Homo sapiens: one gene and its partner. The protein of the gene in region 2 purifies or fractionates together with the protein of the main gene of each other region. This does not show direct contact. Each region holds a gene or a part of one and is shown on either strand. Other genes may lie near its edges.

Region 1 (3,650 bases), on a different chromosome or scaffold from region 2:
AGTTTAATGTAACAACTACTTTAAAATAAAAAAGAAGCAAACACTACAAGATTTCCACCCAACTATCAAATGCTATGTCAGCTAAAGGATAAGAAAAAACTCCTTTAAGCATCAAGAAAAAAGATGAAGACTTGCAACAAATGACTTTATTAGTCATCATTTTCTTAACTCAGGTTAAAAAGTTACGCAGACCCTTGAAACAAACAGACATTAAATTTCAGAAAATAGGTTTAAGTGGCTCTTAAATTCTTTATTTCTACAAGAAAGAATTTGATTTTATGAGCTTAATGGAAGGTACTTACCTGCTTTCCATCTGTAATTCTCAATATTTAACTCATTTCAAGCCCTGCCCCTTTTCAAACTGTTTAATCCTATTATTTTCTGTTAGAGCCTGTAATTTCCAAAACACCAGCATTTAGATATCTTCAGAAGCTATTTTCACACAGTATTCCTAGAGATAAAATGATGAAAAAAATCAAAGTATCCCAGGAAGGCACCACAATGCACATTCCTGATTGTAAAACTGTTTCAAATTTTTTTCTAAAACCTTACACAGCAGCTTGAATATAACCACTATTCAGTGAATGTTTGCTGAACTGAGAATGTTTTTGCTAAACTCTATTTTGCTTTTTGACACATGAGAGAAGGCACTGTCTTTATACCAAAAAGAATCCACATTTCAGCACTGTGCATCAGAAATGCTTTGTCAAGCATATTTTCTCAATTCTCTCCAGAAGACTCCTACTTAAAAGTTGGCTGCATATTACAGTATATTTAACTGGGTGCTCTGAATTGCTCACTATACTTACAGAGGGAATGCACTTGTCGCCTCTCTGCAGTGATTACACAGAGATAAAAATGAATTAATTGAAATACATTTATTTAGCATGCAAAAACCAATTACTAACTCAAATTATGGATATTAAAACATCCACAGGAAACAAAATCCTAGAAGTGAATTATTACCTAAGAATTACCTTTAGGCTGGGTGCAGTGGCTCATGCCTGTAGTCCCAACACTGTGGTAGGGTGAGGAGGGTGGATCACCTGAGGTCAGGGGTTTGAGACCGGCCTGGCCAACATGGTGAAACCCCATCTCTACTAAAAATACAAAAATTAGCCGGGCATGGTGGCACATGCCTGTAATCTTAGCTCCTTGAGAGACTGAGGCAGGAGAATCCCTTGGACCCAGGAGGCGGAGGATGCAGTGAACCAAGATCGCACACTGCACTCCAGCCTGGGTGACAGAATGAGACTCCGTCTCAAAAAAAAAAAAATTACCTTTAAAAACTCTAAAATCTAAATTATAATTAAAGACTTTAATGTAAACAGTATAAAATAAGTCTTTTTCATTTCTTATCTTTGCCTGCCCTCTAATTATAGTTTACAAAATCAAATAACTGTCACATCATAACCCCAATTCAAAAAATGAAGTTCATTTTCTCATTTCTTCTAAAAGTAGTATCCAGCCTTCCCAGTTCCACAAGTAGACAATGTCCTTCTTAGACAAACAGTTCCTTTTTCTTTTACATTTAATATATTTCTTTATTGATTATATCATATCTGAAATTTCAATCACTTAGTTCTTAAAAGACATTTTAAGTTTTTTCTCATATTTCAATGCTTATTAAATGGGGAACACTGATAGTACTATTTACAGAGTGCAGAAAACTTTGAAAAATATTATTCTCAAACAATTCCTACTCACATCTCAGATTAACAACAATAGAAGATTCTTTGTGGAATTAATATTTTTACAATTTTAAGAAAAGTTTAGCAATAACTTAAGAAAGGTTTAGCAATAAAAAACCCTAATTAAAAGTTGAATATTAAGTAACATTTTTTAATTAAACAAACTCCCAATTTCAACAGTTATATAATTGAAGTCAATACCAAAATAATTTTTTAATTATGACTATAGATCTTTAGACATTATTTTGGGAAGAAAGTATCGGAAAATGAGAACATATGTTCAAATCCAGTGCTAGTTTCTTCAATACCAAGGAGGGTAATTACCAATCTTTTCACTGTAACAATTTAACATGTTTAATTTTACAAATCCAGATTCTCATAACTTATATTAATTTTTTAAAATTAAATTCAAATCACTTAAAACTAACTATAAGCATTTTTACAAGAATTTCACCACACCCTTTGAGCTTACATGGCTGAATCCCAGGGAGCTTGAAAGCTGAGGCATTTTCTGATTACTTTGGCTTTCCATAAAGAATAAGCATTATACCAACAGACAATTCCACAGCTCACAAAAACACTGGAGTCAGGAAATTTATATGAAATGACAGCTTAGTATGCTATTGCACATAATTACAGGAAAGTTTTCATTCATGCGTACATTCATTCAATAAACATTTACTGAGACACCTGCCTTTTATCAGCCACTGCCCTTGAGAAGTTCATTATCTAAAGAACAATGATAAGTCATGTAATTACACATATTTTAGTATAACATGTAAGGTGATACAATGTGACATATACAAATTCCTCTGACCTACTCATTCTGATATATATATAACCTAGAACCCTGCTAACTTAAGTGTGGTCCATAAACCACCAGAATTGGCAACCCCCAGCAGCTAGTCAGAAACAGAGACTCTCAAGTTCCACCTCAAAATATATTGAATCACAATCACAGTTACCTGGAGAGCATTTTAACAAGCTCCCCAGATAATTCCAATGTACGTTTAAATTTTGAGAAGCAGTGAACTAGAACATAACTGAAAATCAGCAAAAACAATGTCATAGAGTCCACATACTTTTAAGATCTTCAAGGTCCATCCTGAGCCTTTTTAAGAATGTATATACAATTTCAACAAGTTCAATGGCTTAGTTTCACAGACTAGGAACAAATTGAGATACCACTGACAACAAAAAAAGAAAATAGGAAAAACTTATAAAAAGCAATCTCAAAAAGGGATAGCTGTGTCACTTAACATAGCAACAATTTGTCTAGATAGGCCCTAAAAGTCTCACCACATTACAATAACACAAAAGTAATCGATGTTCTCAAACATGCCTCCTGTATCTAGAACATAAATTCCCTGAGGACAGAGACCTAGTTCTATCCTTAAATTACACTTACATTTGTAAACTGAATGACTCAAGTCATTAAGATGAGTTTGAGCTAGGCAGTAAGATATATGATACATTTTAGAAAAAATTCCATCTGACAGAGTTAAAATAAAAACATTTACTCCAAAAAGAAAGAGAGATAAAGAAAGAGAGGGAGGGAGGGGGAGGGGAGAGAAAGACAGAGTAGAACACCCGGATGGATGGGGCACACCTGTAGTCCCCAGCTACTCAGGAGTATGAGGCCAGCCTGGGCAACATGGCGAGACCTCGTTTCTTCAACAAAACAAAACAAAACAAGAGTAAAGCATCCCCATTCTATAACCCATTCACCAAGCACTCTAAGAACAGAGCCTTTACTGAACCTCTGGCTCCCAATCCCAAAGTCTTCCTATTCAAATCCTCTTCTGGGGGGCTGATGAGAGTGCCAGGATAAAAAGGAGAAAGATTAGAAGAGGATGGAGGGAAAACAGAAATCACCGACCATGTTAGGGTTCCTCCATTCATGAAAATGAAACCAGCAAAAATACAAAGACACACCAAAGATACATCAATCCTACAAGA
Region 2 (3,750 bases):
GAACAGGAGAGGTGCAGGGGACCAGGAGGTGTCCTGGCACAAAGGTTCGGGGGTCTCCCTGGCAAGGGGTCCCAGGGCCTGGAGCCCGAGGCCCAGCCAAAAGCACACAGCATCAAAACATGTTTTTAGTGGGAAGCTCCAGGCCCTGCCCCTCCCCGGGGGCCTCGAGGTCGGGGAGCAGGTGGGCGTCTGTCTGCCTCCAGGTCATGGCAGTGCAGGCGGTGAGCTGGGGGCCGGCAGGGGCGCGGACAGTGCGGCGTGGTCGAACAGAGGGTTGCGCACCTCCATTTCCCCGGTCTGCGAATGTGGGTGTCAGGCTGGGCAGTGGGTGGGCTGGGGGGATACTTGCTGGGAGGGAACCCCAGGAGATGGTTCGCCCCTCCCTGCACCCTGAGGCACTCACCGGGGCCAGGCCCGGGCACTCGTACACCGTGAAGTCTCCGTCCTCATTCTCCTCATCCGAGGAGGCCGTGTCCAGCTCCTTGGGTGGCTCTTTATGCCTGGGTGGGGGGGGATCGCTGGGTCCTCCCCATGCCCTCGAGGTGCCAGTGGCCCAGTCTGGAAGTGGGCACTCAGCCCACCTCAGCCCTGGGGTGGCAGGGGAGCACAGCCCAGGGTGAAGTTGGCCAGGGGAGGTGAGGGTGCAGGGCGGCGGGGGAGGTGAAGGTTAGCGTGCAGGTGAGGGTGGCAGGGCCTGGGGTAAAGTTGGCCAGGGGAGGTGGAAATGGAGGTGGAGGTGGGGATGGGGGGTGGGTGGGTGGGGGTGGCAGTGCCGGGGCGGCCACTCACCGCTCCAGGCACAGCATCTGTTGCCGTTGGTGCTGGTAGTGGTACATCTCCGCGCTCTGTGCCAGCCGCTGGTCCCCAGGCTGTGGGAAGGAGGAGGCGAGGGTCAGTTGGCGGCCAGAGTTGGGCGGGAGCCTCAGGGCTGAAGGGGGCCACACACCGAGATCCGGGGAGCTGCAGGTGAGCCAGGGGCCTTCGCAGTGGCGTAGTCGGCCTTCTGAGTCAGGCGGATCTCACGCTGCAGCCTGTGGGGAGTGGGGCCTGAGACCTCTGAGCGTGTGGCACCCTCCCTGCCCTGCCCGCGGCCACTGGCTCACCTGCACCAGCAGAGGGAGGCTACGGAGAGGGCGGCTGCACCGGCCACACAGAACGCCAGGATCAGCACTGCAGGAGGGGGCGTGTGAGGGCGGCCTTCTGCAGGGCGCCCTGCTGCCCCTGCCCACCCCCGACCAAGACCTACCAAGGGCGAGGCCGTCGCCTTGCCCTCCCCGGGGCTCCAGGGGCGACATGTGCACCGGGTCGGATGACACAGGGGAGCCCAGGGAGGTGTGGGGCGTGGGCGTGGGGGTTCCTGGAGTGGAGGGGAGGCCCAGCTCCAGCCCCTGCCCCCGTGCCGAGAAGCCCAGGGTGGCTGCGAGAGAGGACAGGTTAGAATGAGAGCACTGGGCTAGGGACAGGGCCGTGGGGCAGGGGAAGCGGGGGTCTCACCAGGCTCCGGGAGCCGCTGTCGGTCCTTGGGTAGGGGCGGAGTTGAGTGTCCAGACTCCTTCCGGGCAAGCTCCTGGGCCAGGAAGTCAATCTCATCTTCCAGTCTGGGCTGGGGCCGGCCCCCGCCTGGGGAGGGTGAGGGGCCATCAGGTGGAGGGGTCCGTCCAGGAGGTAGCCCCAGGCCCGGCCTCCCCGCTTCTGGCAGGTTCCTCCCAGGAGCCTGAGGACTGGGTACACGCCTGGAGGCCCTCTCCCTCCCAGATTGCCATGGTGACAGCGCGGGCGCTTCCTGTGAGGGGCAGTGCTTCCCGGAAAGTGGAGGCAGGGCAAGGGAGGAGGCGCTAGGGAAACGTCCAAAGACCGGGCACGGGGAGGAAGGAGTGGGGTCTCTCGCCCCAACCCATGTCCATAAAGGGCTGGCCAGCACAGCCCCTTCTGCTTCCCCACCTCCAAGCACCTTCTCGGGTAGAGGGGCAGGGACTCCCCAAGGAGTGGGGGGAAGCCGAAGGAAGCCAAGCACCCGGGACCCCTCCCCAGGTCATTGGGAGAACGGGGGCAGCTGTCAGGGGTGGGGCTGGTGGCAGGGCTCCACCGGTACCCACTGTGGGCTGCACAGTCTGGGTGGACGCTCCCAGGTTGGCAGGAGGTGCATCCACACAGACCCTTACAGCCACTTCTCGGTGCTCCTCTCAACACCTCCTCCAGGAAGCCGCTGCTGCTCCCACCCCCAGCACCTCTGAGCAAAGCCCTCACCACACCTGAAGTCACTCAGTGACTGGCCATCCCGACAGATGCGGCTCAGGCTGGCGAGCGGGGCATCCCCAGCACCCAGCCAGTGCTGGCACCCTTCAACATTTGCCAACAGGCGGACAGGACAGTGAGTGGTGGAAAAGAGCAAGCTGCCTGGGGACGGGGAAGTGGGGGCCTGGAGGGCTTCTGGGCAGACCCTGCAGAGCCCAGGCCCGGGGAGAATGGGCCCTTCCTCTCCCGTGGCCATCCCAGCATTTCACATCGTGCAGCCCTTCTCCTGGGAGGGCCTGACTGCCCCAGGCCTGGGCCCACCTCCATTTGGAAAGGATGGGAGGCTTCGTGGAGAGTGAATGAGGATCTCCCAGGCCTTGGACCCAACACCCCACAAGGTCCAGGGGCCCCAAGACCACCTGGCACAGGCCTGGGCATTGAGGCTGCAGGCTGCTGCTTTTTTTTTTTTGAGGCGGAGTCTCGCTCTGCCGCCCAGGCTGGAGTGCAGTGGCGCGATCTCGGCTCACTGCAAGCTCTGCCTCCCGGGTTCACGCCATTCTCCTGCCTTAGCTTCCCGAGTAGCTGGGACTACAGGCGCCCGCCGCCACGCCCGGCTAATTTTGTTTTTGTATTTTTAGTACAGATGGGGTTTCACCGTGTTAGCCAGGATGGTCTCGATCTCCTGACCTTATGATGTGCCCGCCTCGGCCTCCCAAAGTGCTGGGATTACAGGCGTGAGCCACTGCTCCCGGCCTTCTTTTTTTTTTTTTTTTTTTTTGAGACAGAGTCTCGCACTGTCGCCCAGGCTGGAGTGCAGTGGTGAATCGGCTCACTGCAAGCTCCGCCTCCCGGGTTAAAGCAATTCTCCTGCCTCAGCCTCCTGAGTAGCTGGGACTACAGGTGTGTGCCACCACACCCGGCTACTTTGTATTTTTAGTAGAGACGGGGTTTCACCATGTTGGCCAGGCTGGTCTTGAACTCCTGACCTCATGAGATCCAACAGCCTGGGCCTCCCACAGTGCTGGGATTACAGGCATGAGCCACCGCGCCCAGCCGGCCGCTTCTTACAGGGAGAGGTTCATGCAGGGACATCCCCCCATCGACTTCCCCCTTTGCTCTCGTACCTGGAGGCCGGCGCATCCTGGGCACACAGAGCCCTTGCTGGTCCTCCTGGAAGGGCTGAAGGCAGGGCCCACAGGCATGTGCACCAGGAGGACACCTTGCCCGCCTCTTCAGGGCACAGTCCAGGCTCCCGGGACAGGCGGCTACATCTGGGAAGGAAGCAGAAGGCAGGGCCGGCTCACGGCCCCGCAGGGCTCGGCCCCTGCACACGGCAGCGCTGCCCCAGCCACCCGCCCCCGTCACCCCCCGAGCTGGCCGGGCCTGGTTCTGGCCATTGTTCTGGACATGCCCTTCCTCCCTGACGCCAGGGCTCAGAACCCGGAAGCGAACAGTCCTAGGACTTATCAGAACTACCCTGCCCCACCCCTCCCCAGGGTCCACTTCCAGGCCTGA

The links. The genes of interacting proteins can lie anywhere in the genome.
Region 1: the proteins of NPDC1 (region 2) and TBC1D23 purify together in Homo sapiens (affinity purification with mass spectrometry; 3 studies listed by BioGRID and IntAct, with this or other methods). This does not show direct contact.

What each region holds. Positions count from the first base shown.
Region 1 is NC_000003.12:100,263,901-100,267,550, reverse strand, and holds part of TBC1D23 (TBC1 domain family member 23), read right to left. Parts: intron 1-3,650. UniProt on the Homo sapiens protein: Putative Rab GTPase-activating protein which plays a role in vesicular trafficking. Involved in endosome-to-Golgi trafficking.
Region 2 is NC_000009.12:137,039,568-137,043,317, forward strand, and holds part of NPDC1 (neural proliferation differentiation and control protein 1 precursor), read right to left. Parts: intron 3,507-3,750; coding exon 3,360-3,506; intron 1,621-3,359; coding exon 1,495-1,620; intron 1,418-1,494; coding exon 1,247-1,417; intron 1,171-1,246; coding exon 1,104-1,170; intron 1,032-1,103; coding exon 947-1,031; intron 870-946; coding exon 790-869; intron 501-789; coding exon 404-500; intron 298-403; coding exon 205-297; 3' UTR 1-204. UniProt on the Homo sapiens protein: Suppresses oncogenic transformation in neural and non-neural cells and down-regulates neural cell proliferation. Might be involved in transcriptional regulation.